Linked DNA regions of Homo sapiens. The protein of the gene in region 3 interacts with the protein of the main gene of each other region in a pairwise test. Each region holds a gene or a part of one and is shown on either strand. Other genes may lie near its edges. The genes, in order: PRXL2B, PLEKHS1, TCP11L1 and REL.

Region 1 (7,679 bases), on a different chromosome or scaffold from region 3:
TGACGGGGCAGTGAGGTTACCATCCCCAGTGCCCCACAGGCCAAAGGCCCAAGGTCTCCAGAGAAAGTCGCAGAGCAGGAAGATGACACCTGGGACTCACAGCCACCCTGCCCGCCCTGAGGGCCCAACAGTGAGCAAGGCGGGGGCTGTGGAGGATGCAGGGCTCGGAGCCTGCGAAGCAGTGCGTGGTCAGGAACTGCAGTTTTAATGGCTCGTTGCTGCCGGCGGATCAGGAGAGGTTCGGCATCCCGACCCAGCGCCTCCGGAACAGTTCTTCCAAGTGGACTTCCAGCACACCTAGGGCAGCAGACGCCACCCAGATCCTCGGAGGCCAGGGCCTTCGCCTCCCTCACACCTCTCTGTCACACTGTGGGGACAGCAGGGTCCCATGGGGCCGCTGGACACTGGATCAGACAAATGCCTGGAGGGCCCCCTTGGACAATCCCCAGCCCTCCCAAGGCTGAGAGGACACGCCTCTCTGCCCGCCACCCCATGTGTCGCCCCCACCTCTGAGGACAGTCCCAAGGTGCCTGTCCATCCAGCCATGCTGCCCTTCGGCCCCTCTCAGCCTGCCCCACTCTGCAAGTGGGGTCACAGTGGCATCCATATCCCAGGGCACAATTGGCATGATGCCCACAGCGCTGTGGCTCAGCTCCCAGCCAAGCCGAGTGCTCCTCCCAGGGGACCTAGGGGCAGGGCGTGGGCTGGCAGGCAGCGCCCCCAAGGCCCAGCTCACCTGAGGCGGGTCGCTGGCACAGACCTCCGCAGAGATGCCCAGGACCTGCAGGATGTGCTCCTTGGGGACGTAGTCGCCTGGGGACTTCTGGACGAAATGCAGGAGCACTTTATCACCACCTGTAGCAGCGGGCAGGCAGTCACGGCACCCCGGAGGCCGCCTGCACCTCACAGCCACATACCAGGAGGAGGGAGGGTAGGGCAGCCCTGGCCAGCCATATCCCCCACCCGGCTACCCAGATGAGTGAGCTGTTCTGCCACAGCCCCACTCAGCCCAGCAGACACGCAGAACCAGGCCACATTGCGGCGGAGGGGCTGTGATGAGACTGACAAGCCAGAGAGAGGGCCTGGGCTGGGCCACCAAGTTCAGCAAGGCCCTCCTTGAGGCAGTGGCCGAGGCCCCTCCCTCGACCCACCTTTGCTGACCACCAGCAGCCCTCCGCTCTGCAGCAGGTCCCCAGACAAGTTCCCCTGGATGCCAACAGCCTTGGCCTGTCAGGAGTGGGTACAGCCTGAGTCAATCCTAGAAGAAAGGCTCCTGGGAGCTCCCACCACCCCCCGGCCTGTACACCCTTGACCCGCACACACCTTGGCAGCCACATCACGCACGGGCTTCCCCAGAGCTGCTGGGAGGATGCTCAGGCTGTTGTACCTGCGAAGACACCAGGTCGCTTGGCCAAACTCCGGAGAAGCCTGGGTCCAGAGCCTGCTCCAGTGTCCATGAGACCAGTTCCTAGGTCAGGCCCCACCCCACCCACCCGCCTCACCAGGGCTCAGAGATGGCACAGGCGACCAGATCAGTAGCCAGCCCAGCCCACCGGCAGGTTGGACACCGAGCCCAGTGGCTGCTAGCCGAGGGTCCACAGAGGGTGCAGGGAGCATGGATGGGGCCCCAGGCTGGGTGTGCCCAGGGATCTGGCTCAGCTGGCAACTGCCAAGCAAAGGAAGCAGCCTGTGGCACAGACACCAGAAAGCTAGGATGGCCCCTGATGGGCCACGAGGCTCCACCCCACGAGGTGGTCTGGACACCGAGAGTAAGCCCCGGACGAGGTGGCTCATTACAGTCACCCAGCACCCAAGAGAAGGCCTGGCAGAAGGGCTGGTCAACAGTGCCACCAGAGCCGCCTTGCCCAGGAAGGCCCGAGTGGACAGCACCACAGAGGGCAGCAGGGAGAGGAGGTGGCAGGGAGCGGTGGGAACCCCTGGGCCCCCCACCCCACGCTACCCAAGGGTTCCCGCCCCCACTCACCGCTTGAAGCCTAGCTCCTTGTAAAGCTGCTTGCTCTCATCCAGGTAGAGCTCTGGAAAGCGGAAGCCACATGTGTGTGCCCCAGGCGCAGAACCAGCCCCCAACCCACTCACCACAAAGAATCGCCCTCCTCCTTCCGACCCTCTGTTCCTCTGCCCACCCTCCGTGCTCAGCCCACCCCCGCAGGGCAGGGAGGGGTAAAACGGGGCTGAGTGTCCCCCCTCCCCTCAGAAGAGGGGCTGAGTCCCAGAGGCAACAGGTGGAGCCGGCGGGGCAGAGCTCGTCCAGACTCTGCTGCTGGGCCCAGGTCTGTGCAGGGCACCACCCAGCCACCAGCTGCGGGGCGGGGAGGCAGGGAGAGATGAGGGACGCTGACCCGTGGGCATATCAAGGCCGCTCCAGCAGACAGAAGGGCCGGGGTTGGGCAGGAAAGGGCCCCGAACGCCCTGAGCTTAGGGAAGGGTATGTGCGCCGCCGCGGCGGGGAACAGGACGCACCTCCCGCGAAGTAGTCGCCGTCCAGGAACTCCTGCAGACCCAGGGCCTCGGGCCCTACGCCCACCAGGCGCACGCCGTGTTGGTCCAGGAGCCCAGCAAGGCTGCTGAGGTCCTGGGCGATCCAGCGGCACACCACGCACCCGAAGCGCCGCAGCCCGGCCACCACGCACGCGTGCTCCCGCCACAGGCTCCGCAGCTCCACGGCCTGCCGGGCGGCTGGGTCATGGGCGCGCCCCGTTGCCCCCAGCCCCGCCCAGGCCCCGCGGCCCCCACCACCCCATCGCTGCCAGGACGCCCGGGCAAGGAGCCAGGGACGCGCCCACCGCCCTGCGTCCACCCGGCCTCACCTCCCCGGTCACCGCATGCTTCAGGATGCACGCGCCCACGCGAGCAAGGTCCACCGTGCTCATGGCGGCCGCTGCCAGCCCTGGTTCCCGGCTCCCCGACTCCCTGTTCCCCGCTCCCGGCTCCTCGCTCCTGGATCCCCGCTCCCGGCTCATAGATCCAGCCCCAAGCCCCGCCCCGAGATGCCCCGGTCCCGCCTTTCTTGCTGCCGCCGAGGCCCCGCCCCTTCGGGCTCGTCTCCGCCCCGGGCCCGCCCCCAAGATGGCCGCAGCGCGCCCCGGCCACGCCCCCGACCGCACCCCGAGCCCTGCTCCGCCCCCTCGGATTCGCCCCTAGTCCCGCCTTGTTTCCCCTCCTACTCCAGGCCAAGCCTCGAGATCGCGGCGCCAAATCCTGGGTCCGCCTGCTTCGGTCCCTCCCGCCTCCTCAATCCGGGCCTTGCGGGACAGTTGCTGTCCCGCGTCCTGGTCCCGCCCCTAGCCCCGCCTCTCCGTTGGGCCGCCGACTTGGACCCCGTCGGCCATTGGCGCAGCAGGCGGAGCTGGGCGGTGCGGCCCTCGGTGCGCGGTGCGCCTGTGCGGAATGCGGCGGGAGGCGGGCAGCCGGCTCGGGGTCGTCCCGGGGGGCGCCGGGGAGCGGCTGGGTACGGTGGGCCCAGGGGTGGTCCAGGGAGCGGCGGGGGTCTCCCTGCGGCCTCGCGCGAGACTGGGCTGGACTCAGGGTTGAGGGGAGAGGGTGAGCGCAGGGGTCGCGGGCATAGGGGACCGCGGGCCGGGGTCTCCCGCGGGGCGGGGGTCCCAGCAGTGGGGGGCGGGGGGGTGCGAGGGCTTAGCCTTTCCACGTGGCCTGGTTTTCGCTTGAAAATCCCCGCAAATGCGGCAGCATCTCAATTATACATGGACGCGATGTCTTTAATCATGAAATACTGTTCATGTCGTGCCGGTTGCATATCAGCTTTTAACCCGCCAAACCTTGGGGCGAAATAGACCCCGGGGAGATAAGCACAGCTCCCAGAAGTGCACTGCGGGTCAGGTGCCTGGCAGATGCGTCCTGTTCCTCCCCCACTGCAGCCCTGTGATAGCTTTTGTCACCGAGTTGGGGTGAGGGCCGGGTCACAGCTTCACCCGGCCTGGGCTCCCACCTGAGCGGGCCCGGCCTGGCAGAGTCTGTGCTGCTGGCACGGGTCCTCACTCCCCAGGCCCCAGGACAGCTCCAGGGGCCTGGGCGGGCTGGAGAAGGAAGGGGGAGCCCCCACACTGTATTCCAAATAAAGAGAGGCCCCGGGGGGGTGCTGCTGCTTCGCCTGTGCCCTCGCCCTGGGGTGGTGAAGGTCCAGACTGCGAAACGGAAGTCGTCACTATGTCAGAAAGGGCAAAAAGCAAAACAAGGAAGGGGAAGCACTAGGAGGGAGGAGCTGTGGCAGCTCCAGAGCCCAGGAGTGCAGCCCCCAGAGACCAGGGCTACCCCTCTACCGTCTCGGGCTGTGCAGGAGGGGCCCTCTACCCTCTGGAGTTGTGCAGGAGGGGGCCCCTCTACCATCTGGGGCTGGGCAGGAAGGGCCCCCCCCCACCGTCTCAGGCTGTGCAGGAGGGGGCCCCTCTACTGTCTCGGGCTGTGCAGGAGGGGGCCCCTCTATCTTCTGGGGCTGTGCAGGAGGGGGCCCCTCCACTGTCTCAGGCTGTGCAGGAGAGGGCCCCTCTGCCGTCTGGGGCTGTGCAAGCAGTGAGCAAGCTGCCGCCTCCTTGGGAGCTGGGATCCCAGACGGGATTCAGCCATTTTCAGAGACGTTCCCAGAAACGAGAATGCGAGATCAATTCCTCGCCTGGCATCTCCCACCAACGCCATCGCTGCAGGAGCCTCACTGGAAGCCAACGGGCAGAGGAGAGTGGGAAAGGAGCTTGCAGCCTCCCAGCTCCAGTGATGCAGAGCAGAAGGTGGCTGGGAGGCTGAGAAGCCATAAGAAAATAGCAGGGCCAGCCCATGTGGCCGCTCAGATACATGCTATGTGTGTGTTTGCATATGTAGGGGCTGAAAAACTCCACCTCCATCCTTTTGAGGTCCTGGCTGGGCCCAAGAGTTAAATCAAGATAAGACAGATCATCATGCCAGTGTATTTGATTAAAGTTGGATGTGGCTCAGGAGCCCTCCTAAGGAAGTGAAGACCCAGTGAAGCAGACTCAGTCGTGTGCTGAGTTGGACAGAGAACAGTGAGGTTTGAGGAAGCAGCTAGATGATGTGGGGGGCTGAAAAGGTGAGAGGCATTTTATCAGGGACTGTACAGCATTTGCTGGGTCTCAGCTTCTCATCCTTGAGGATCAGAGCTTTCTAGTGTAGGGAGAGCATCTTTCACCTGGGAATTTCATCTTCTGCTTTTAAGAAACACAAGAGAGATCAGAATGATCTTTTTGCACCTGTTATTGTTTTAACTGCCTTTAATTCCTAATAGTGACTATGCCAGAGCAGCCTATTTTGGGGTGGCACCTTCTTAACTCTGCATACTGTACATATCTGGCACACATCATTTAAAGTAAATAGACAGGCTTGCTTACTTTTTACTCAAGTGCAACATAATTCAGAAAAGTGCAGACATGCTCAGTAGACAGCTCCTTCTACACGCCTGTTGACTTTCTTTCATCAATGACATATTGGTCGGCTCTTGCTAGGCTGTGTTGCCAAAACAACTCGCAAGCCTGGGTCGATCACAGCAACCAAGTTTCCCCTCCCACTCAGGTTTCTTGTCGGCCACGGGTGGCTCAGCTTCTGATGCCTCCTTCGTTCTGGGGTCCAGGCTGAGCAAGCTGTGGCTCTCTGGAACATGCCGTTCTCCTGACAAGGGAGGACATGGAGGAGAGATGGAGAAACCATGCCACACTCTCCCAGCGGCCATGCACAGCTGGGATGTGTCGCTTGCACTCCCATGTCACTGGCCAGAGCAAGTCACATGGCCAAGGAGGGGCAGGGAAGAGCACTTCCTCCTCCAGGTGGTGCCAGCTCTGGGACTGGGTTTTAGCTTTCCTTACAAAGGAAGAGCTGGCCCGTTACCGCAGCAGGGATGCTGACAGAAGACGTGAAACTCCGGGGTCAGAGACAAAGGACTTTTTCATTCATGGCGTGGCAGGCAGGTGCTCACCTGTGTGTTTGGTCTTATCCCCTTGCCCCCAAATTCCACGGGTGCCATGTGGGTAGGCCTGGGTGGGCACTGCACAGTCAGTAGGTTTGCGTGGCCACTGAGGAGCCCTGCACTGGGGGAGTCAGCTGTTTCTGCAGCAAGCAGTGAGCAAGCTGCTCTTTGTCCCTAGAGGACTCTCAGGGCAAACCACCCTGAGAAATGGGGGAGGGTACTCAGGGCCTGCATTCCTGGCACACCCTGTGAGAGGTGGGGGGCACGAGACACTCGTGGAGGACTGCCCTCTTAACAGGAGAAGCTGCCAGTACCAGAGGCCAAAGAGACTTACCCAGAGATTTCACCGGCATCCCTGGGCTGCCTGGTGCCACATATGTGAAAACAGTCATTTCATGTAAGCTTGTCCACTCAGTAGCATGAAGGTGGGAGGGTGTCTTAGTCATAGATGGGGTGGCTTCTAAAGAACAGAAATTGATTTCTCACATTTCTGGAGGCTGGAGGTCCAAGATCAAAGCGCCGGCATATTCAAGGTCTGGCGAGGACCCCTTCCTGGTTCCTAGATCACTTCTTCATGCTGTGTCCTCACAGGGTGGAAGGCATGAGGGGGCTCTGGGGGGCCTCCTTTTTAAAGGCACTAACTTTGGCCGGGTGTTTTGGCTCACGTCTGTAATCCCAGCACTTTGGGAGGCCGAGGTGGGCGGATCACCTGTAGTCAGGAGTTCGAGACCAGCCTGGCTAACATGGTGAAACCTTATCTCTACTAAAGATACAAAAATTAGCTGGACGTGGTGGAGCATGCCTGTAATCCCAGCTACCCGGGAGGCTGAGGCAGGAGAATCACTTGAACTTGGGAGGCAGAGGTTGCAATGAGCCAAGATCATGCCACTGCCTCCCAGCCTAGGCGACAGAGTGAGACTTCGTCTCAAAATAAAATAAAATACATAAATAAAAGCACTAACCCATTCCCGAGGGCTCCACCCTCACTACCCACCTAAGCACATGCCGAAGCCCCACCTCATAATGTCATCACATTAGGGATTCGGTTTCAGCATATGAACTGGGGGAGGGGGCACAAATGGGGGAAACTGGCTCCACTGTGTGAAAATTGTCAATACTAAGGCAGAGTCACTTATGTCAGGACCCAAGCAAAACGGAGCTGGGAGGCCTCAACGGAAGGTCCCTCATGCTCGGGTGCCTATGATGAGAACTGTTACAGGGACTCCGACAGCACACAACATTCCAGATCAGCTGCTCCTATGAAGACATCTCCCCCGCAACAATCATGTTACCCATGAGTAATCACCAACCCTGCAATAAGCTCCTGTACCCAGGGAGGTTTATTCCAAAACAATCTGTGTAGACTTCCTCTTCCCACCCCTAAAAGAAAGATACACCTACGGTCCCCCTCAGCATGCATATCCCAGATTGCAATCCCCTGCCATCCCCCAGTAAACTTTATTTGGGAGAGCCAGTCTCTCTGTTGTTTATTTTACATTGACAAGTTGCAGCATCGTGGCCAGCAGCAGAAGTCCTACTAGGCTTCTTGAGTCTGTGGGTTGGTATCTTTAATCAGTTTGGGAATTCTTTTATTTTATTTGTTTGTTTGTTTGTTTTGAGATGCAGTTTTGCTCTTGTTGCCCAGGCTGGAGTGCAACGGCTCGATCTCAGCTCGCTGCAACCTCTGCCTCTTGGGTTCAAGCGATTCTCCTGCCTCAGCCTCTGGAGTAGC
Region 2 (7,565 bases), on a different chromosome or scaffold from region 3:
TGACCTTGGCTCTCAACTGTACTTTCTGAGTAGACTTTTGGCCTCTATTTCTGAGATGACATTGTCCAGGTAAAGGTTGTTCAAAACATTTGGAGAATAATATAAATTTAAGTTACTGAAAAATCCTCTTGGGATGTGGTAGCGGATGGTAGGCTATGGGAACAGAGGGAAAAATGGACTAAATTGGTTATGTAACTGTCCACATCAGGCCAGTCTGCATATTTCTCTGCTGGAAATGATTCCATAGAAGAAGGCATGGAAAAGAGTTAAAATTACATCAATCGTACCAAATGCTCTTGGTATCACTTAAAGCCTAAATAACCCCCTCCTGGTCTATAACTAAGTCTCATGCAACTTGCATGTCCATAATTACACTCATGGGAAAACTGAGTGACATGCTACTCAGATTGGTGTGGATCCCAAGTCCTGGGACCTGAAAGAGTAGCCAAGGGGGAATTTTTAAAAATAGCTGAAAATGCCACCCCCCGCCCCAGGAACTGCTTTACTTGAGATCTATCATCCCCTCTCCTTGGCCACAACATCAATGACAGGGAGAAGATGGTCAAGTTTTTGGCTGACTTGGAGATTTTTAGGAACAGCTTTAAAATTTAAATTCTAAGTTAAAAAAAAAAGTGGGAGGGAGGCTGCCTTGCTCTTAGGGCCCATCAAGTTTTAGAAATTAGAGCTTTACTTGATTAATATAGACAATTGCACAACAGTTAGTGAGGCCGACCCCTTTTGGTCATTTGTGGTCTGTGCTTCCACATCGGCAGGGGAAAGACACCAATCAATTCCTGAGCCTTGTTCTTGCAGGTGGAGGTCCCCATCCTGGGTCTCTGGAAGGGTCTGGGGTTCCTCTTTGCTGCTATCCACAGACTCATGGGATGTCTCTTTGAAAAAACTAGAGCATAAGAAGTTAAAACAAGCCCTATTTTAGCATGTGTTTTTACAGTGTTCCCCTGTGTGTGTCAGATTTAAGTAGCTAACAGCCATGTGAAGACTAGCAAGGTCTTGACGTATGTCCAACTATCAGAATCACAGCCACAGCTAGCATCAAATTCAACAAACTTTCCTTCTAAAAATAGATATGGAATCAAAATTACCCTTTACAGTGTTTGGAGGACAGAAGTGAGAGTGTGAGAGACATAAATGCAAAGTAGAAGATAACTTCCTCAGGAGACGGAAAAGGTCCTGAGGATGTCATCGGTGGTTTTCTGTGGGAAGAGACATGACTCCCTCATTTTTTGTGTGTTGAGACGACTGAATAATATGTGGAAACTGGTCTCTGGTAATGTTTGGCATCAGTTTATCAACTATTGAAATGAACTGACAATCATTGTTCCTTAACAGCAGATGAGCAAACATCAAATTTTGAAACGGCATTTTGACTTACTAGGATTCCATTGGCTCATAATGACACTCAATTCTTCCAGAGACCTGGTCTGGACCATCAGTTTCAATGGATTCACCAGAATCACTGGAAGCAATGATATTATCCAACTGCAGATAAAAGGAATAGATGTAAGAATCCCAGTTTACCGATAAGTCAGGTACCTTCTTATTTCTAGTATTAACAGCTCTGGGCTCTGACATAGAGGTACAGTTTCCAGTGGATGAACGTGGTTCTCATTTGAGAAATATCAACCAACCTTACCTCCGCGAGACTGAACCAGCAAAGCTTCTGGAGGACTCAAAGTCAATTTTCTTCTCCTGGATCCCTCATGCTCCGGATACAAGTGTTATTTCTATTGAGCTAAATTGCTGTTTATCTTTCTGTTTCACCATTCGGCACTTAATGACATGAAAGCATTTCCCCAATCAGTTCTACTATAGAATCATGGCACTTGGCTGGGACAAAGACTCTGACACAATGTGAAGCTGGTCTCAGGTTACTATGCTCACAGGCAGCCCAAGTGGCTTCAGGGACATTGCAATGTTCTAGAAAAATACTGCCCTTAGGAAGCTCTCCATAGCCCCCTTAGAACAAAGAGAGTCACTTGTGGCAATGATTGCTCAAAAACCCTAAGGCCTACCTAAGTTCACCGTTAACCCATGATGGAAACCTTCCTTCCAGTCAAGCCAGTCTTCCCATTGGCCCCCTGCAAATGGTGCTGTTCCATCGCCATGTTCGTGCTCTCTTCTTCACCTCGAGTGCCATCTTTCCTTTCGGCCTACTGAAATCATGTTCAGGCCTGGCTGAAGTCCCACAGCCCACTCTGATCACCTCAGCTACGGCAGAGCTCTCCTTTCTCTCAATTTCCATTGCATAGTTTTTTTACTTATTTATTTATTTATTTATCTTTGGTCTTTTTAGCTGTTTTGTCTGCTTTACTAGACTTTACTTATCATAAAGTACCTAGCAAAGGCCAGGCCTATAACTGATGCTCAGTACACATCTGATTGGTTGGCTGAACTATCATAAAAGACTGCATCCCAGGAAACAGAAATATGAAAATATTTTGGTGAAAGAAGAACTCTGTGCTCAAAGGAGCTTGGGAAATGCCATGTGTTGTATCTGACTTGACTATTTACAATGCACCACTGCATACTAAATGCTCTGAGAATTCTGCTAAGAAGCTTGTTTAACTTATTTTAACTGGGTGTTTCCGGAACTTATTTGACCCCAGAATGTTTCTTTTATATAAACATACGTCACCATCTTACGGAAAACCCCCAGTTTGGGAAATGACGCAGCATTCCCACCCTCCATTCTGTCTTCCTATCTCTCACTTCCATTCTCTTCTCTCTATAGTCCATGGCAGATATAGCTGCTCAGTTAATACTAATGGAGGATAATTCAGGTTTTGAGATTTCCCAACTCAGAAGCCATCGCTTCCCCTATGCTGTCTACAGAATGAAGTCAACTTGGCATTCAAGACCCATCATGGGCTGGCCCTTTTCTTCTGTTTATCTCCCACTATGCCTTTCACGCACTCTAGGTTGCAGCCTCACTGAACTATTCCCCATACATGTATCAAATGGCACTTCATCCCAGAAGCCTTCCTTGACTCTGATAGAGAAAATCTGTTCTTTTTCTATTGCTTCCAGAGCACACGGACCACGTCTTTTGTGCAGCGTTATCCTGTGGTAACTGACAAGACTATGCACTCTGACAGCAGGGTGATGTCAGGCTCATTACTTTAGCCACCATGCCCAGTACAGTACAGTGACTAGTGCTCAGAAGGCATTCAGTAAGGGCTTCCTACTGATCAATAGACTGATCGATACACAGCACACAACTGATCACCCAAGGACCTTGGCTCATATTATTCTTTCTGCTAAGAATGCAGAAAGACTCCTCAAGGCAATCCCCCACATCCAAATTTTACTCATCATGTATGGCCTAATGTCATCTCGTCCCTGAAATCTTCCTGATCTTTTGTTTGAAAGTCATCTCCTCCTCCCATAGCTCATGCACCCCTGGTATTTTATAAGCATCTCTCTTCAGCATAGAACCCTCTGTCTTGTATTACAGCTGTCTCCTAGTCAAGTGTCAGCACCATGAGCACGTCATCTGTATTTGATTTACTTCTGTGTTCCCACTGACCATAGCCTAATATTGCACGAAAAGTGCATGGCAGGGTTTCAGTAAATATTTGTTAAAGAAACAAATGATGAATGGACAAGAAGGGGTTACCTCTAAAAGAACACTTCGAGGAGTAAGATAATGATTCTCTTCCTTCACATCTTGAGTGGCTTCTGATAAATCTTGTAGGTGAGTTTGCCTAAATCCTGGAGAACTTTGTTCCATTAAATGCTGAAGAAAAGAGATAAAAATGCTTTGCTTTTTCTTTGCAAGAGATAGAATTAAATCACATGCATTCTAGAAAAGCCGTAATAAATTAGTTGGGTTAAAAAAGACCAGAGGGTCTTCCAAGATTACATCCAGAAGCTCACACAACTTGAACTTGCCTCTTGAGTCTGGGTCACCACTGAGGATGAAAACATATAAGCACATCACTCAGGCTTTTTTTCTCTACCGTTTGGAACAGTCACTCAGAACAAGTGGTTTTCTCCTGTGGGTGGTATTCTTTTTTTTTTTTTTTTTTTTTGAGACAGAGTCTCACTCTGTCCCCCAGGCTGGAGTGCAGTGGCGCGATCTCGGCTCACAGCAACCTCCACCTCCTGGGTTCAAGTGATTCTCCTGCCTCAGCCTCCTGAGTAGCTGGGAATACAGGCGCGCATCACCATGCATAGCTAATTTTTGTATATTTTTTAGTAGAGATGGGGTTTCACCATATTGGCCAGGCTGGTCTCAAACTCCTGACCTCGTGATCCACCCGCCTCAGCCTCCCAAAGTGCTGAGATTACAAGCATGAGCCACCATGACCAGCCCTGTGGGTAGCATTCTAAGTCACTAAGCTCTGGAGTTGCTACCCTCATCTTTTTCCTGTAATCATCCAGTGCCATCTAAGAATGTAATTAACCCAGAATCAAGGCGTTGCACCTTTCCTGTTCCTGCTCCATATTTTTCTTTTGTGTTCTGTTCACACACTTCTATTGTTTCCACAGCAATGGAATTTGGTTGTGTTGATCATATGATAGTATGAATTATGGGTTTCCAGGTGATCTAGATTCAACCACTATTGCCTCCCCTTCCCCATAGATACAGAATATTCTACTAAAGTAGCTTCTTTGCATGGCAGAAAAATTCCAAGAACAATGCCTCAGAGCAGGGGGTTTGGAAAAGACCCTGAATGTTCTCTAGAAAAAAAGTCAAGTTTTAAAATACAGGTGTGTTTAAGTTCTGTCCATGTTTTAAGTTCCAAGCTCATGGAGCCGGATCATGCTGAGTTGGGGGTAAAGGCAGCCCACTTAATTTAACCAACAACAACACCACCCAGCAAGGCAAACAGTACTGTTAACTCGAGCTGGTTTAAAAATCACTGGATCTATAGTGTGAAAAGGCAAAGTGACCAATAATGTTATCTCTAGGGGGAGGGAGATATCATGAGTGAAAAGCAAGAGGCACTTACAGACAAGGGTGAAGCTTCCTAACTGCTGCATACCACCGTTTCTACTCGCTAAATGAAGAACTGAGGTGAGGTGTTTGGCATGGTGAATTTGATATGCTACAAAAAGCTTTCAAAATAGTTGGAGAGCTACCAACTAGATAAAACAAGGGACTAGGACTCATTAGATGTGCTTGGTATACATGGACAGGGTAAAGTCAATGGATAAGTCTCTAAGAGACAAAATAGTATCCGTGCCAGAGAACAAAACCACTCAGCATGTTTATGACTAATATCCCAAGTTGGGAACATTGCAAATCCAAGAAAGCTGAAGGTCCAATTACAAGTCGCTTTCAAGAGGCAGGTACATTATATTTTATGTCTTCAAATGGATTTCATTAGAAATGAGGAAGAAGTGATAGACAGCTATAATGAATGAGAAGCGAGATTGATCAGGGTAAAGGGAAGAGATTAACAAGAAACTCAGCCTTTGCCTGAGGAGTACAGACAGAATGGGCAGAAATCAGGTAGTGTCTGGGAAATCTTTTGGCAGAGGGATCTGTGCCCTCTGTGTGAAAGAAAGGAAGCAAGTTGCCAGCTAGGTTTTGGTTTAGCAAAGGGGTCTTACCCTAGCATACCCAAAGCATATCAAGAGCATCTAAAATGAATGAATACACTGAGAGGTATTCAGGGCAAGCCCTCAGTGAGGCTCATCTGTGGTATGGGATAAACATCAGGGCTAAGAATCTTTCTTATAGTGCATCGGGCTTTGAGGAAGGTGGGCATGGTTAAATTCAATTGCTAATTGGTAAGATTTTTAGGCATTAGCTGCCTCCCAGGTGTGGTGTCCTGAGAAAGAAGTGAGCCCCATTACCTTGTCTTGGAGACCATTTCTTGGTGAGCTGGAGCCAACAGCCTCTGATGTGCTGGAAGGGCCAAGGAGAGGGCTGGAGTAGAAGAGGGTTCTTTTATTACCCAATGAGAGTTCCTCCTGCTCACAAAAAAAGGAATCAGTCAGGGCACAGTTGATCTCTGTCTGGAATGAAACGGCAGCCTCTCTACCGGGCTCCTTGCCTCCTGTCTTTTCCCATAGCAATCTAACATTCATGCCGCTGGCCTGCCAGCATTATTTCACCAAGACAAGAGCCGAACTTGTCTCTCTCCTGTTTCCAAACCCTTGAGGACATTTAGCCTGACCCTCAGAGATGACCAGCGTTTCCCTCAACTTGTCTCCTCAACTGTGTCTCTTTCTGACACCCTCCACCCCAGTTCCCTTTGCTCTAATCACTTCAGTCTACTTGAAGACATGCCTTGATTTCTCCTTCTCTTTGGCTTTTGCTGTAAGCATGGAACAACCTAGAAAACATGTCAAAAAAAGATACCTAGGGACCAAAGTTCCATCTATAAAGGTCTGCCCTGAGAAAGGAACATTAGCAGAGGCCCTTTTGAAATAAGTTTAAAACTTAAAACTGCTAAGCATGTACATGAAAGATACATTATATTAAAAATGCAAGATACATGTAAAACATTTTTATAGAAACTGCCCTAGACTTAGTCATTCAAAAGGGAGCTTGTCATGCACCTTGAATAACAATGATGGAAAATACTATATTCTAGCTACTACTTAAAAATGTCACAGTTAACTTTTCTTCCCTCTAACACAATAATAAAAATCTGAAGTGTCTGTACTTTAGCTCTCTCACAAAACACAAAAGAATTTTTTTCTGTTAATCATAAAAAGTAATAAGGATGTACATTTTCTCATTTATTTATTCCTTGTATTAAAGCCAGTTACTAAGGAGGCAAAGGAAAGCTACCATTGTTTTCTATTGAAAGAGGGTTGTGTTCAGGTGCCCTGTTATTTTATTAGTGATATGGAGTCACCTCTGTGTTCTGCTGTGTTGCTTTTATATCCTGGCGAAATGATGACATGAAGGAGACCCAGTCTTTAATCTTCTCCCTGTTGACAGGAATAAACTTTCAGTTGGCATGTGGCAACAATAGTGCCTTTTGAACCAGAGAAGGATTCTTTTATGAATGTTAGAATGGTGGTGAGAGCAGGTACCAGCGAAATAAGAATTTTTCCTAAGTAGCTTAAATGGCCTCGCCACCTCCACATTTGCACACTAGAATTAATGCTCAGCCACCTCTGCAAGGAAAGCTCAGAGAAAGGGAAGAAAAGTAGAAAATAATAGTAGTAATCACAGGGTTTGGGGCTTTCGGCTTTGACATTGATTTCCTTTGTGTTCTCAAGCAAGCCCCCTAACCTGTCAGTGTCATTTTTGTGTAACTATGCAGGTGGGCCTTCCCTTAGGGAGTGCATGTGTTGATGAAGAATGTGCTTGAGTGAATTTGTATAATCACATCTTTTCTATGGACTCACAGGACAACTTAAAAGGAAGCTTTGGTCAATCTGAAACAGATCAGGGTTTTTCATATGTTGGCTTTGGCATTGTCCGCCTCCTCTGCACAGTCTCTCCCACACCCGCTTTGCCTCTCCCTCAAGCAGATAATCATCCATGAAGAGTCCACTAGGCACCTTTGCTAGGACCAGAAGCCCCTCTTAAAAACTGCAGACTACTTTGGGGGCAAGCCTAGTTCCTCCCTAATATA
Region 3 (8,071 bases):
TATTTTTAGGAGAGATGGGGCTTCACCATGTTGGCCAGGCTGGTTTCGAACTCCTGACCTCATGATCCACCTGCCCTGGCCTCCCAAAGTGCTGGGATTACAGGCGTGAGCCACTGCGCCTGGCCTAATTTTGTATTTTTAGTAGAGACGGGGTTTCACCATGTTGGTCAGGCTGGTCTCGAACTCCTGACCTCAGGTGATCCACCTGCCTCGGTCTCCCAAAGTACTGGGATTACAGCCATGAGCCACTGCGCCCTACAGAAAACAGAATCTTATGAAATGTTTAAGAGGAATGTGTGGGGCAAATATTTTTATTACCTTCTTGCCAGTAATTAGGAAAAAGATTGTGAGTAAGAAGCTGCAAACAACCATAATGTATGCAGTTGGGTGGGCTTTTTATTAGTTGCTGATCAGAATAGCAATAACACTTGACACTGTGCTTTGGAGCAGTTAATAAAAGGTCTGCCTGGGCCTCCCAAAGTGCTGGGATTACAGGCATGAGCCACCGTGCCCAGCCTAAAACAGGCCTAAAACAGGCGGATCATGAGGTCAAGAGATCGAGACCATCCTGGCTAACACGCTGAAACCCCGTCTCCACTAAAAATATTAAAAAATTGGCCTGGCATGGTGGCGGTGCCTGTAGTCCCAAATACTCAGGAGGCTGAAGCAGGAGAATGGCATGAACCCGGGAGGCAGAGCTTGCAGTGAGCCGAGATCGCACCACTGCACTCCAGCCTGGGCAACAGACTGAGACTCTGTCTAAACAAACAAACAAACAAACAAAAAAACCCTGTTTTAATTACAGTAAAAGTTTTAGTCAATTCCTCCACTCTCCCTTTTCCTAGGGTGTTTCTGGGAGAGAAGACACAATGTTTCTGCATTTGCTGAAAATAATTAACATTTGTAACATCAGCACTTGAAGATCACAAAACATTTTCATAAACACTAATTAGACTTTCTTACACACATGGAAGGTAATCAGGTGATCAAAAGAAATGTCAACTGATTTAGGGAGTTTGGCAGACTGTGTTCTGCATATTAGAGAGAGGTGAAGAATCACCTGATAGAATTATGTGAAATTTCAGAGAACTCCATTAAATAGAATGAAGTTACTGGGATTGAAATATTCAGGCCTGTTTTTTTGTTTTTTTTTTGGGGACAGACTCTTGCACTGTTCCCCAGATTGAAGTGCAGTGGCACCATCTCGGCTCAGCTCACTGCAACCTCTGCCTCCCAGGTTCAAGGGATTCTTCTGCCTCAGCCTCCCCAGTAGCTGGGATTATAGGCGCCCACCACCACGCCTCGCTAATTTTCGTATTTTTAGTAGAGATGGGGTTTCACTATGTTGGCCAGGCTTGTCTCGAACTCCTGACCTCTAGTGATCCGCCCGCCTCAGCCTCCCAAAGTGCTGGGATTATAGGCGTGAGCCACTGCACCTGGCCCAGGCCTGTATTAATATGAAAGTTGTTTTCATGTATTTTCCCTTTCGAGACCCATCTTAGCTTCCAACACCCCACTGGAGACACCCATCTCCTCTGTGTCCTAAATCCTATTAGGGTCAGGAAATGCTCCAAGATCCAAAGGATAACATTACCAGCATATTCTGTGAGAAACGACAAACAAAACGCTGCTAATTTTATTATCTTCACATGCTGAGAAGGAGCCCAGGAGGGATGAAGTAATTCATTCTGTGCAGTGAGGAGGAAAGGGAGGATTTCTAGGTCTCTAATGCTCAGCTTAGTAAACTAACCCCATCCTTAAGATTGAGTTCAAGTCCTGTCTCTTCCCAGGACACTTCCCGGACCTCACCAGTGATTGCACCTTTCTCAACTCCTGCAGGGCTGGCTAGTTGACATTTGGCATTTGTCACTGCCTTAAATTCAATTCAAAGCGTGCTTATTTAAATAGAAAGATGCAAATACATAGTCTAGAGGGGGAGGCAGACAGGCTTACAAGGAGCCATAATGAAACTTAAGTGGCATTATGAAATTGCCCAGGGAATATAGCAGAGGAAGAAACTAACTCTGCCTGGGAGGAGATTGAGAAAACCTTCCCAGAAAAGATGACATTTGAACTGATCTTTAAAAGGAGTAGGATTTCACCTAGTTAAAACATGTCTGGAGGGGGAGAGGAGGGGGAGAGGAGGTGAAAAGGAGGGCATTTCACTCAGAGGGCAGAAGCCAAGGCACAAGAAAATGAGAAAAGGAAGTGGCTAGAGATGATGGAAAGATGCGTTGGGGCCAGATGGTAAAAGTGCTAGTTTTTATTTTAAAATTCCCCACCTAGATTTCGAACTTCTTAAGAGCCAGGACCAGTCATATTCCCCACTTATGCTCCATCTGTATATCCCCCAAATAGACACCCACAAGTATCTGTTGATAGAGATGAATCCCTACGTCATCTCTGTGATGTCACTGTATCTGGGAGGCTGGGCGTTGGTTTCAGACATACCTGGGCCCCAATTCTGGCTCTTTACTAGCTGTGTAACTTCAGTGTCCTCCTCTGTAAAACACAGCTACCTACCTGCTCGGTTTGGGGGGAGATGAAACGAGGGATTGTGCACGGCAGGCCTTCTACAAATGGTAACTCTAATTAAAGGGCTCTAGGATGCGGCCACGAACCATTTAATTTGCTTATATCGCGCGCATCCATTCAACCCCCACTGTGTCTAAAAAGAGAGCCGAGGGGAGGAGGATCCTCGCACTTGCCAAGAAGACGGTCATCCGTCGGCGCTGCACGCGGGCCTAGGCTGGACACAAGAGGCTCCCCAGCAGAAAGGGTCTTTCGGCAAAAGAAAAAAGGGGCTCTGTCCCCCGGCGCCGGGAATCCCCTCCTCTGGCACTGAGCTCCACTCGCGCCCGGCGTCCGGATTCCGTTGTAAACAGCTGTTCAGGCCAGCGAGGGAGTGGCAGGGCCGGGAGTAGGGGAGGACGCGGGCGCGCCGAGAGGACAGCCTCGAGGGGTGAGCTCCACCCGCCCGCGGACCCCGCCTCTTCCTCGCCTGCCCCCGACATCCCGGGATGGGATCCGACGGGAAGAGGCGAAGAGATGCCTGCGACTTGGACCGCGCGCCTCCCGGACGGGCCCCGCCAGCCTCCGCCCCAGCTCCCGCTCTCACCTGCCACGGAGTCGGCGTTCTCCCTCCTGCCGCTCCCGCCGCGAATCAGGCGCGGGCTGGCGCCGCGGCGGAAGCCGGAGGGATGCGCGGCAGGCAGGGGCGGTTCAGCCTCTGCCCCTCCGAGGCCGCATCCCTCGCCACGCGGCGGGCGGTCCTCCCAGCCCGACTCGGGTGGGCAGCGGTCAGAGCGGCCGCTTCTCAGCATCAGGAAGGAGGAGACTGCTCTTGGCCGGGAGGCGCCAGCCCAATATAGGGCAGCGCCATGTCTTCGTACGGAAAGGCGGGAGGGTCTTTCCCCTGCTTGCCGAAGGGGTTCAGTAAGCGGTGACTCGCAGCTGGGCGGCGCCGTGTTTCCTCAGGGAGAGGTGGAAAACATGGCCGATGACCGCTCAGGGGGCTCCGTGGCCAGTGGCTCCCAGCCAAGAGTCGCCCGCCGCACGCAGTGAGGCGCCATGTTTTCGTACGGAAACGCGAGAGGCATGGCCGAGTGCCCGCCGATGAGTCTCAGCTGGCGGTGGCTCGAAGCTGGGGATGGCCCGCCCCTAGGCGCCATGTTTCCATACGGAAAGACGGAACGCGCGCCGCATCCCAGCCGCTGGTGCGGGTGACGCGAGGAGAAAGGGAGGCGGAGAAGGCGCGGGTCAGTCAAAAGAAGGAATAAGAAGCCATTGCATCTGAAACCTTCCCCGCCCGTTCTTTGAAATTTAATTTTGCCATCCTGTTTGTAGCTACACAAAGTTTATTCCCCTTCTCTCATTTCCTCAGCTTTAAAAAAAAGTTAGTCCGGGCGCAGCAGCTCACGCCTGTAATCCCAGCACTTTGAGAGGCCGAGGCGGGCGGATCACGAGGTCAAGAGATCGAGACCATCCTGGCCAACATGGTGAAACCTCGTCTTTACTAAAAATACGAAAATTAGCTGGGTGTGGTGGCGCGCGCCTGTAGTCCCAGCTACTCGGGAGGCTGAGGCAGGAGAATCGCTTGAATCTGGGAGGCGGAGGTTGCAGTGAGGCGAGATCGCGCCACTGCACTGCGGCCTGGAGACAGACCGAGACTCTGTCTCAAAAACAAACAAACAAAAAAAAACTACAAAAAAGCAGATGGGGTGACATTGGTGCTTTCAAACACTGCTTCTAAATAGATCACATGTGGGTAGTTATTGCTAACGTATTGAAGGCCGAGTGCAATACCAGACCCTCAAACCATTTACTAACTTGCACATTAAAGTCTTTGCTTTAAAAAAAAAAAAAAAAAGACAAAAACAGAAGTTCTCTGGTGAAGATTCACTTTTTGGAGGAAAAAACACCAAAAACCCTTAAGATACTCAACTAAATGGAACTGTTAAGATCTACAAAGAATGGCTGGGCGCGGTGGCTCACACCTGTAATCCTAGCTCTTTGGGAGGTCGGAGGTGGGTGGATCACAAGGTCAGGAGTTCGAGACCAGCCTGGCCAATATGGTGAAACCTCGTTTCTACTAAAAATACAAAAAAATTAGCCGGGCATGGTGGCATATGCCTGTAATCCCAGCTACTTGGGAGGCTGAGGCAGGAGAATTGCTTGAATCCGGGAAGCAGAGGTTGCAGTGAGCCGGGATCGCACCACTGCACTGCAGCCTGGGTGACAGAGTGAGATTCCGTCTGAAAAAAAAAAAAAAGATCTGCAAAGAAAACATGCAGTTCTTCTGAGTCTAAACTCGTACCATTAAGTCTCTAGTGTTTTTCAGCCCTGACTACAAATACAACTTGGAATCTCAGGGGCAGGGGTTGGAAAAGTATCATCCAAAACTCCGGGGAGGGTGATGCCAGACAAGTTTTAAAAGCTCCCTGGGGAAGCAGGCTAGAACCTTCCTTAAAAGATTAATATGGCTGGGTGCAATGGCTCACGCCTGTAATCCTAGCTCTTTGGGAGGTCGAGGCGGGCGGATCACCTGAGGTCAGGGGTTCAAGACCAGCCTGGCCAACATGGCAAAACCCCGTCTCTACTAAAAATACAAAAATTAGCTGGGCATGGTGGCAGGCGCTTGTAATCCCAGCTACTGGAGAGGCTGAGGCAGGAGAATCCCTTGAACCCAGGAGGCAGAGGTGGCAGTGAGCGGAGATCGCACCCCTGCACTCCAGCCTGGGAGACAGCGAGACTACATCTCAAAAAAAAAAAAAAAGGTTAATATAACCAATTTTCACTTGGTTAGGAGCAAGTGAATGAATATACTCAAGTTCCACCTGGAGAGGATACTGCAACAATACCAAAATCACTGATTTAATTTGGGATATTTCACTTGTAATCTTTTAATGTTTTGTACTGTTTCAATATTCAAAAAATACATATAGACACATTCCATTTTGATCTTTGGCTGCAAGGACTGGAAATTCAAATTACGTTAAGGTAAAGGGAGTTCACTGCAAGGACATAGGACTTGGAGGGAGAAAGGTGGCAGCCACTCTAGAGGTCGGCTACTGCTCCTGTACACACAGGATCCCTCTTGTCACATCTCTGCTTGCTGTAGTCCATTCCACTCTTTATGCTACAGGCTGGTTTCTGTACTTTCTTAATTGACGCGCCTCATAATTTAAATTTACCTATATAGAATTTGATTGGCCAAACTGATTTTTGAACAAAGTTAGTCTCATTAGCCTCCAGGGAAGCTGCCCTTGGATCAGGTGCTCAACCTTGGTCTACTCTGCTAGGATGATGGCAAGACTTACGGTCAACTAGGCATTAGGTGTCTATGTGGGAATGGGTCCCCAAGAAGGCGTCATGGGTGAATGAATGAGAGCACACAGCAAAAGATAATCAACAGTTCTAGTGACTGAGGAGGGTTGCCCAAGGCTTTCAAGGTAGCACTGGACCTGTAGTTTAAAACCTTGACAATGGTTGCAGTAAACATGATCGATTTTTCTTTTTATCCTCCTTATAAGGCCTAAGGTAAATTGATTTTACTAGTATATTTTCCCTGAAATTATCATTCTATTAGAATGTTGCTTCTCCTAGAAGCATGAATGTAACTAAGCAGTTCTGCCTTCCCCTGAAGGTTGTCAAATAAATATGCTATTCAATTATGTGCAAAATAAAGGTTACAAATCAGATAGCACACGGTTGCTCTGCCCACCGTGCTGATCTCACCACAGTTCCAGTAGCTTGTTTCTGAAAACTTCCTCTCACATTTAAATCATAAACTTATCTTCTTTTTCCCCTCACTGTAAAGAGAGCTGCCTTCCCCTTTTTTTTTTTTTTTTTTTTTTTTTTTTTTTTTTTTTTTTAAGAGGGAGTCTTGTTTTGTCGCCCAGGCTGGAGTGCAATGGCACGATCTCGGCTCACTGCAACCTCCGCCTCCTAGGTTCAAGAGATTCTCCTGCCTCAGCCTCCCGAGTAGCTGGGATTACAGGCACCCGCTACCACGCCCAGCTAATTTTTGTATTTTTGGCAGAGACGGGTTTTCACCATGTTGGTCAGGCTGGTCTCAAATTCCTGACCTCAGATGATCCACCTGCCTCGGCCTCTGAAAGTGCTGGGATTACAGGCGTGAGCCACCACGCCCAGCCCTTCCATTCTTACCTATCCAAAAAAACGGAGTTATTCCCTGAGTTATTAGAACTGGTATCATAGGTATTTTATAGATATTAGTCCTCAACCTTTATCTACTTAGACTAGGCACTATCAGTTATACCTAAGGGGGAAAAAAAAACATTACTGACATACTAACATATTGGTGCATCATTTCAGTTTTCCCTACCTCTCATTAAAGTCAGTTAAAAGACAAAATTCAGTATTTAATCTTTTGGCTCTATTACTATTAGGATGAACAACTTCAAACTGTATTATATTGCTTGTCTATTTATCAAATACAGTTGACCCTTGAACAATGTGGGGGTTATGGGCATCAATCCCCCTGCACAATCAAAATTCTACATATAAGTTTTGACTCCTCTAAAACTTATTAGACTACTGTTGGCCAGAAGTCTTACCAATAACAGTCAATTAACACACATTTCGTATGTTACATTATATATAGAGTGTTTTTTGTTTTTTGTTTTTTGTTTGAGACATGATCTCGCTCTTTCACCCAGGCTGAAGTGCAGTGGCATAATCATGGTTCAATGCTGTTTCAACTTCCCAGGCTCAAATGGATCCTCCCACCTCAACCTCCCAAGGAGCTGTACCACAGGTGCATGCTACCATGCCTAGCTAATTTCTTTTTTTGGGGTGGGGTGTTAGAGACAGGGTCTCTCTACATTGCCCAGGCTGGTCTCAAGCAATCATCTCGGCTTCCCAAAGTACTGGGATTACCGTTATGAGCCACCGTGTCTGCTCTAAATACTGTATTCCTACCTTAAAGTAAGCTAGAGAAAAGAAAATGTTATTAAGAAAGTCACAAGGAAGAGAATATATACTATTCAAAGTGAAAGTGGATCATCCTAAAGGTCTTCATCCTTGTCATCTTCACATTGAATAGGTAGAGGAGGAGGAAGGCTGGTCTTGCTGTCTCAGGGGTCACAGAGGTGGAGGAGGTGGAAGGAGAGGAAGGAGAGGCAGGAGAGGCAAGCACACTTTGTATAACTTCTGTTTTTAAAAATCCAAGTGGACCTGCGCAGTTCAAACTTGTGGTGTTTAAAGGTCACCTGTGTATCTTCACAGTGCACTCATTCCAAATAATGATTAACTTGGTTAAAAAGGTATTAAAAACTTTAGCTCTAATGCCCAATTTACAAGAACTATAGGATACAAAGGAACATGATAAAGGACAGCCCAGACTTGTCATCAGAAAAATTCAGACTGAGGAAAACTCAAGAACAACTGACCAAGTTTATTTAACAATAGAGACATACACACAGACAAAAAGACAGAGAGGGGAAAGGTGGAAGGAGAAAGGAGTACTTACATTTTTATTTATTTATTTATTTTTTTGAGACAGAGTCTTGCTCTGTCACCAGGCTGGAGTACAGTGGTGCGATCTCGG
Region 4 (7,565 bases), on a different chromosome or scaffold from region 3:
AAGAAAAAGATAAACCTGTGGAGATGACTGTGAAGAAACTGGCCCTTTAAAATAATTGCTATAGCTAGTATATGAAGCAACTAATAGTGAGATAGACACAGAAGAAGGGTCTATTACCTGGATAGAAGGGTATGTTCGGTTGTTGTCTGTGCTGTGCTCCCCTGGAATGCTGCCTGCTGATCGCCCTTCACATTTGTATCTAAAACGCATTCCCCTCTGCCTGGGTTGTTCAATTATCTCTATATACGGGTTATACGCACCTGAAAAGTTTTTAAAAAGGAGGAGGTCAGTGAGATTAATATAGCAATTAATAATGGATTTTAACATTCTGTTTTTTTTATAACAGCAGACTAAAACAAAGATTTTTTTCCTCCTAACATTAAATAACAAGACCGAAATGTTATCTTGGAGATTGGCTGGGAGAGGCACCTTTTTTTCCCATTCAAATTGAGTCCCTATGTAGTGTCAAAACAAGTCATTCAAACCATATTGACTGGTTAGCACTTTATAGCTTAATATCTATAGCTAACGTCAATATGAAGTTCTGAGATAACCACTTCAGAGATATCTGCCTCCCACGTGAGACCTAGCAGAAGGGTTTCCCCCAAGATTCCCCAAGAAGGGTAAAGAAGGCAGTATTCAGAAGTAAAATATCACACTCCTAAAGTGAGTTAAATATATTTAACTGCTTGATTTTACATCATATTCATAATACTGAATGAAAAGACCATTCACTGAAAATGAAAATGCATTTAAATCCTTGCAGAAGCATATGTAAGTTTTTTATATCTCCATTCAAATATTAAAGGACTTACACACAGTATATCAAAACAAGCCCCAGGAGGGACTTTAGGCTCAAAGAATGTGCAATCAGTCCCATGCAAACCTTTTCTAAAGACATAATAGAGAAAAAAAAGTATTCACTTTCTATAATAACTAAAATTCAAAATATGCATCTGCAGAATGAACTGCTGCTACATATAATAACATGGACGACTCTCAAAATGATTATGCTGAGTGAAAGAAGTTAGACCAGAAGAGCACATACTGTATGATTCCATTTATATGAAACCCTAGGATATGTAAAGTAATATACAATGAACGATAGCAGATCACTGGTTGCCTAAGAACAGGGATATATGGTGGATAGGAAAGGCAGGGGGGACATTATCTTGTGATGATGATTCCAGGGTTGTATACATATGTCAAAACTTGTCAAATTGCATACTTTAAAAGTACAGTTTGTTGTACATAAATTATATGTCAATAAAGCTATTTAAAATGTATGCAACTTTACTTTTATTATCCAAATTGTGGGGGAAAAGGTAAATAGACACTCAACTGTACTTGCAAGTAGGGGAGTTAATAGGGGTGTGAAGATGTTTTCCATTAAAAAATAATAATAATGTGTCCCTTAATCACTTTAGTGCTGACTAAGGCTTATCCTGTTAGAACGCAAGCAATCCTGAGAAATGGTAACACAGTGGGCCTTATCAGAACAGTATGGAGAAGAGGCCTTTAGAATCCTACCCCAGCTACTTCTTAACAGTAAGACCAAGGAAATGTGATTAAAATTAAAAATCTCTTAGTTTCCTCCTCTGTAAAATAGGAATAATCATAATAGCACCTACCTCATTGGGTTGTTGTGAAGATGACAGATTATATGTGCTAAATTCTTACGAAGTGTCATATATACATACACATTCAATAAATGTTGTCTACGTGAAAAAATGCTCATCATCACTGGCCATCAGAGAAATGCAAATCAAAACCACAATGAGATACCATCTTACACCAGTTAGAATGGCGATCATTAAAAAGTCAGGAAACAACAGGTGCTGGAGAGGATGTGAAGAAATAGGAACACTTTTACACAGTTGGTGGGACTGTAAGCTAGTTCAACCATTGTGGAAGTCAGTGTGGCGATTCCTCAGGGATCTAGAACTAGAAATACCATTTTACCCAGCCATCCCATTACTGGGTATATACCCAAAAGATTATAAATCATGCTGCTATAAAGACACATGCACAAGTATGTTTATTGCGGCACTCTTCACAATAGCAAAGACTTGGAACCAACCCAAATGTCCAACAATGATAGACTGGATTAAGAAAATGTGGCACATATACACCATGGAATACTATGCAGCCATAAAAAAGGATAAGCTCATGTCCTTTGTAGGGACATAGATGAAGCTGGAAACTATCGTGAGGACAAAAAAACCAAACACCGCATGTTCTCACTCATGGGTGGGAATTGATCAATGAGAACACATGGACACAGGAAGGGGAACATCACACACCAGGGCCTGTTGTGGGGTGGGGGAAGGGGGGAGGGAAAGCATTAGGAGATATACCTAATGTTAAATGACAAGTTAATGGGTGCAGCACACCAACATGGCACATGTATACATATGTAACAAAGCCGCACGATGTGTACATGTACCCTAAAACTTAAAGTGTAAAAAAATAAAAAATAAAAAAAAATGGTGTCTATTATTTCAGATGCTTTCTTGAAAACAATGATTTAGTGATACTATGGTGGTATCCCAACTGTCACTCTAAAGGACCTTATAGAAGAGCAAGGCAAACAACATATATTATTAGACTACAGAAGGAAGGAAAGCACTAACAAAATTCTGCGGAAATAAGAGCGAAAGAGTCAGGAATGCCCAACTGTGTCAGTGGAAAAAGAGCGGTTAATGAAGCAAAAGAGCGGAGGAAATGAAGAGGAAAAAGGTAGGTATTCTAGGGAAAAGGGAACAGTGTGTCCACAGAGGAGGGTTTATTTAAGAATCACCAATGTAAATGGAACACACTTTCTCTCTTAAAAAGAGAACTAAAAGTCAGAGCACACTTGGCAATGTGGATTTCATTTTATGTGTGATGAAATCAATGAATATTTTGATGCAGGCAAATCACATGATCAGATTTGCATTTTAGAGTAAAAGTTTTAGTCACAGTGAACAGATAGAAAAAAGAAAGCAATGTCATCAGTTTAGAGACCACTATAATAATGTGGGCAATGATGAGGGTATCTCTGATATATGGCAGTGATAAGATGAATGAAGGATTATTTAAAAGATAAAATTGACAGCACCTGGTGCCTGAACAGTAGGGTTAAGAGAAATTAAAGAATCACTGATAGCTCAGAAATTAAAGAATCATTGATGATTCCATGGCTTCTACTTTGGGTTACTGAATAAAGTATTACTGTAACTTTCAATTTTATTCTGTATGGTGTAAACTCCCTGTGTTTGAATCTACTACCTATTTGTTTATTCAGAAGATGAAGAGCCAGAGAAAACTGACTTTAACCTAAACAAGTTCATAATCCTTATTTCAGTTTTACTCAAAAACATAAGATATGCAGATGAGTATTTCACGATTTTATCCTTGCATATTTTAAAGATTTCAAATTCACATTGCAATTTCAAATATTTCATACCCTTATATATCCTTGTAGGAGTATTTAAGAAAGTATATTTTCCTCTTAAAAACTGTTAAAATCAACATTACTTTTTAAGTCACATTTTAAATAATTTATGTGGCTGAAGTAAAGGCCAAATAAATCCCTGCCCACTACTTATTTAAAGGTGTCTTGGTGGGAAACTGATATAAAATGACATCGTTAATGATAAGTGTTTAACTTTGGGAAGAGAGAGTGTGAATAAAACTGCTAGGTTCATAGTGAGCATTCAAATATTTCACTGAGGCTGGGCATGGTGGCTCATACCTGTAATCCCAGCACTTTGGGAGGCCAAAGTGGGTGGATCACTTGAGGTCAGGAGTTCCAGACCAGCCTGGAAAACATGGTGAAACCCCATCTCTACTAAAAATACAAAAAATTAGCGGGATGTGGTGGCAGGCACCTGTAATCCCAGCTACTTGGGAGACTGAGGCAAGAGAATTGCTTGAACCCAGGAGGTGGAGGCTGCAGTGAGCCAAGATTGTACCACTGCACTCTAGCCTGGGTGACAGAGTGAGACTCCGTCTCAAAAAAAAAAACAAACAAAACACAAAAACAACAACAAAAAAACCCAAAACTTCATTGGTTACATGACACTTCTTTAGATTGTTTACAAAAAGAACAGAAAAGTAGTTGTTGAAAAGATTAAATATTTTTAAATAGTAAAAATTACATAAATATCAGTTATCATATAATATTGAGTATTTAAAGTCCTTGGAATTTATTTTTCCTACTGCAGAAGCTCTTAATTGGTAAAAATTAACAAGCTGGGGGAATGTAGAGTATTACAACCAAGTAACACAGTATACTGTAATACTCTACATTCCCCCAGCTGGAAATAATCTCCCCTCCTTTAAACTACCATAGTATTCTGTGTATAGCAATTATTCCAAATAACTGTAATTTAGGGAAAACTTACCGTCTTATTTCTTCTTGAGATAAAGCTACTTGTTTTATTTCTTCAAGCTACTTGAAGGCAGAAATTGTGTTTAACTCATCAGTGCCTTGTACAGAGATATTCATTAAACATCTATTGAATGAATGACTAAAAAATCTTAAGGTCTTTTGTTTATACAAGTTATTCAAACGTTAAATAATCATATAAGTGATTAGTCAGATTTTTTAATTAGATTCCACTACTAAGGAAAAAAAAATAGTGCTTTATAGGTACCAGGATTGCTACACCTCAGTATTTCCTCATACTCATTCCTATTTTGATTTATCTGTGTTTATGATTTTTAAAAAACTTCCCAGCTATAAATCATTTATATAATGCATCAGTACAATGCACCAGTTATCTCCTTCCTCAGTACTGTGCTTTGCACAATGCCATTCTTCCTGAATATAAAATGTGTTGAAATGTAGTCATCTATGGAGTGCAAGAGGGTAAAACATAAATCAGGAAATTGTAGGGAAAATAAGTACTCTTAACTAAGATAACCTCAAATCGCCACAGTTTTGAAAAGCACCAAAACGTCTCCAAAATTGACTCTAAACAAATTGATTACTGTATTTTTCTTTAAGCAACACTATGCAAAGCTGGGACTGACCCCTATATTCTGAATAGTATTTTAAAAGGCTAATATACATCAGAATAACTTCTAAAATACAGCCAAAATGTTTGTAAGATATATCTATGTTTTTATTTGCGCTTAGGCAAGAAAGAGTGCTATTTTAAAACATAGTGCCTATCTAATAAAGCATGAGCTTTTAAAATAAAAAAATTACATTGAAATGTTTAAATGGATCATAAATTATCGGAAATAGACACATTATTAACAAACACTTTATTGCTAGAATTAGCAACCAGCATCAAGTATACAGAAAAAAAAGCTAATTATTGTAATTATAACATTATTTTAAGACCCCTTTATATACATTTCTCATTTGATCCTCTTAACTTTAATCTCCATTTGAAAAATAATAGAAATTATTATCCCATCTTACACATGATAAAACTAAAGTTGAAAATTATATGAAGTTATAATAAAAATGAATTATGAATGGTATGCTAATATGGCAGTGCCAAATTTAAAAAACAAGCATAAAAGCAACTGGAGGTAATAACTGATACAGCACATAATCTGCAATCTAAAATAAATGCAACTTAATTTAAGAAGATAATGCATCCTGGTATAGCCAAATGAGTATTTAGATCCAAAGAAATCCCTAGAACAGAGTTCATACTGGGGATGTACATCAGAATCACCTAGGTAGTTTTTTCAAAACATACATGTCCTTACCCCACTTGAGATGTTTAGAAGATAAAGAAATCTTCATAGTTTTTAAAGCCCAGATACACGTTGCTGAAAAAGCCTTCCAAGAAATTCTAACACACTCCTGATTAAGAATAATTGTCTTAAAACATGAAGTGGAAGCAACAATGCACATATTGAGAGAAGTAATCTAAAAATTCAGGTACAAATATGGACTGGGACGTGAGTAAATTAGGCAAAGCAATTCTGGCTACTTGTAACTTGAACTTGTGTTTATCTCCCACTTAAAAAAGAACCTTATTCAAATGCAAGCAAGAAAAAATGACAATATAGAGATAACCTTCAAATGCTTTCATTTATTTAAAAAGTAAATAATTTACAACACAAATATTTTAACTCTTGCAACACATCACACAAATGATTGTCACACCAGTGTGTCAACACCACAGTTGAGAATAGCTGACTAGACTGCATGTCTCTCATAAAGGTCCTCGGTGACAGACTTTGCCTGAGACCTAAAGGAGCCAATGGAGCTAACAATATATATTTTTCCAAATATCACCTCTACTCAATTTGGAGAAAAAGAAAATAAGATCTATTATTTTTTTCCTCAAACTAGGTCTCTCATCAGCCAAAGGCTATGCCAATATATCAGGCTGACTTTATTACTCCAATACATCAGGCTGACTTTCAACTGGGCCTTAAGAATCAAAGAAAGGAAATTTTCAGATGAGTATTCAACTGATTTATGCACTACAAGGTAAAAACTGTAAAAGATTCTGGCAATAGGGATTCTGTTACCAAGGGGGAAAAAAGGTAAGTCTTGAAAAAACTCTTGCACGTGCCAGGGTAAAATAAATAAATTTTAAAAGCTGTCCTAGATTATACAGGTATTAAAGTTAAAAACAAATGGCAAGACCAAATCACCTCTGTTTTAAAAATAAAAACAGAGGAGGCCCAGATAAATATGAATTTCAGAAAAACAATTTTATCCCATGCAATATTTGGGTCATGTGCCTACAAACAAAATCATTTTCAGAGAACCCATATGAGAGAAAGTTGGAACAAAATGAAATTCTGAGTCCCTTAAATTGTATTTGAGAAAGATACTATGCATAACCTAGATGTTCCTAATTATGATTCATTGTCTGGCTCCTCCCTAGTCATTACATTAACTCATTCCCTTTATCTGTGCCTATCATACGTCACCTTAATTATTTAACTCCATTGTTATTTCTATTTTTTCATGTGTTGCATTTCTGAAACATTCATGCTCATGTGTGGCATTTTACTTAAAAAAAGAAGTCATTTACTGTAGCTATCCATTCCTAACTTCCAGCTCTGTTATTAAAGATTAAGTTGCCTCACACTTACTTCCATTTCTCCCCTTTAATCGAGAAAAACAACAATTCTCTTGAAATTCACACTACAAATAGTTGGTAAGAAGTGAGGTTTACAAAAACAATTCATTTCTGTACTTCCTTCCTATTGTGTGACACAGAAGAACCATACTAAGAAAAATGTGAAGAAAAATAAATTATCTAAATTTTAAAACATTTTACCAAAGACAGCACTAATTATTAGTTAACAGAGCTATATGCCACACAAAGACATTTTGCTCTTTTTACTGGAACAATGAGAAGGTTTAAATTCAGACATAAAATATCTAATTTTACTTATATTAAATAGAATAAATATACAAAAGCAACAACTGCCTACTATGCATACCTTAGATGGGTTTGGGAACATTTTTCTTCACTATATCTATTATTAATTATGTCAAAAGACTGTGATCAAGGTGTAATTTTTTTAAAAAGCAACGAAAGGCAGCTTAATACAAGCTGTGAAATCCTAATTAATCTGCTAACTTATCTAAACAA

What was found.
Region 1: the proteins of TCP11L1 (region 3) and PRXL2B interact in binary tests that used the Homo sapiens proteins (3 or more experiments, as listed by UniProt).
Region 2: the proteins of TCP11L1 (region 3) and PLEKHS1 interact in binary tests that used the Homo sapiens proteins (3 or more experiments, as listed by UniProt).
Region 4: the proteins of TCP11L1 (region 3) and REL interact in binary tests that used the Homo sapiens proteins (3 or more experiments, as listed by UniProt).

The regions. Positions count from the first base shown.
Region 1 is NC_000001.11:2,582,098-2,589,776, reverse strand, and holds the start of PRXL2B (prostamide/prostaglandin F synthase), read right to left. Parts: upstream 3,001-7,679; 5' UTR 2,982-3,000; coding exon of another isoform or gene 2,892-2,981; coding exon 2,829-2,891; intron 2,687-2,828; coding exon 2,482-2,686; intron 2,037-2,481; coding exon 1,985-2,036; intron 1,442-1,984; coding exon of another isoform or gene 1,388-1,441; coding exon 1,324-1,387; intron 1,248-1,323; coding exon of another isoform or gene 1,228-1,247; coding exon 1,152-1,227; intron 856-1,151; coding exon 737-855; intron 368-736; coding exon 350-367; coding exon of another isoform or gene 298-349; 3' UTR 1-297. UniProt on the Homo sapiens protein: Catalyzes the reduction of prostaglandin-ethanolamide H(2) (prostamide H(2)) to prostamide F(2alpha) with NADPH as proton donor. Also able to reduce prostaglandin H(2) to prostaglandin F(2alpha).
Region 2 is NC_000010.11:113,768,162-113,775,726, reverse strand, and holds part of PLEKHS1 (pleckstrin homology domain-containing family S member 1), read right to left. Parts: intron 6,913-7,565; coding exon 6,837-6,912; intron 5,944-6,836; coding exon 5,827-5,943; intron 3,758-5,826; coding exon 3,638-3,757; intron 1,501-3,637; coding exon 1,394-1,500; intron 902-1,393; coding exon 692-901; intron 154-691; coding exon of another isoform or gene 108-153; exon of another isoform or gene 1-107.
Region 3 is NC_000011.10:33,034,840-33,042,910, reverse strand, and holds the start of TCP11L1 (T-complex protein 11-like protein 1), read right to left. Parts: upstream 3,340-8,071; 5' UTR 3,119-3,339; exon of another isoform or gene 2,524-3,118; intron 1-2,523.
Region 4 is NC_000002.12:60,884,378-60,891,942, reverse strand, and holds part of REL (proto-oncogene c-Rel), read right to left. Parts: intron 261-7,565; coding exon 118-260; intron 1-117. UniProt on the Homo sapiens protein: Proto-oncogene that may play a role in differentiation and lymphopoiesis.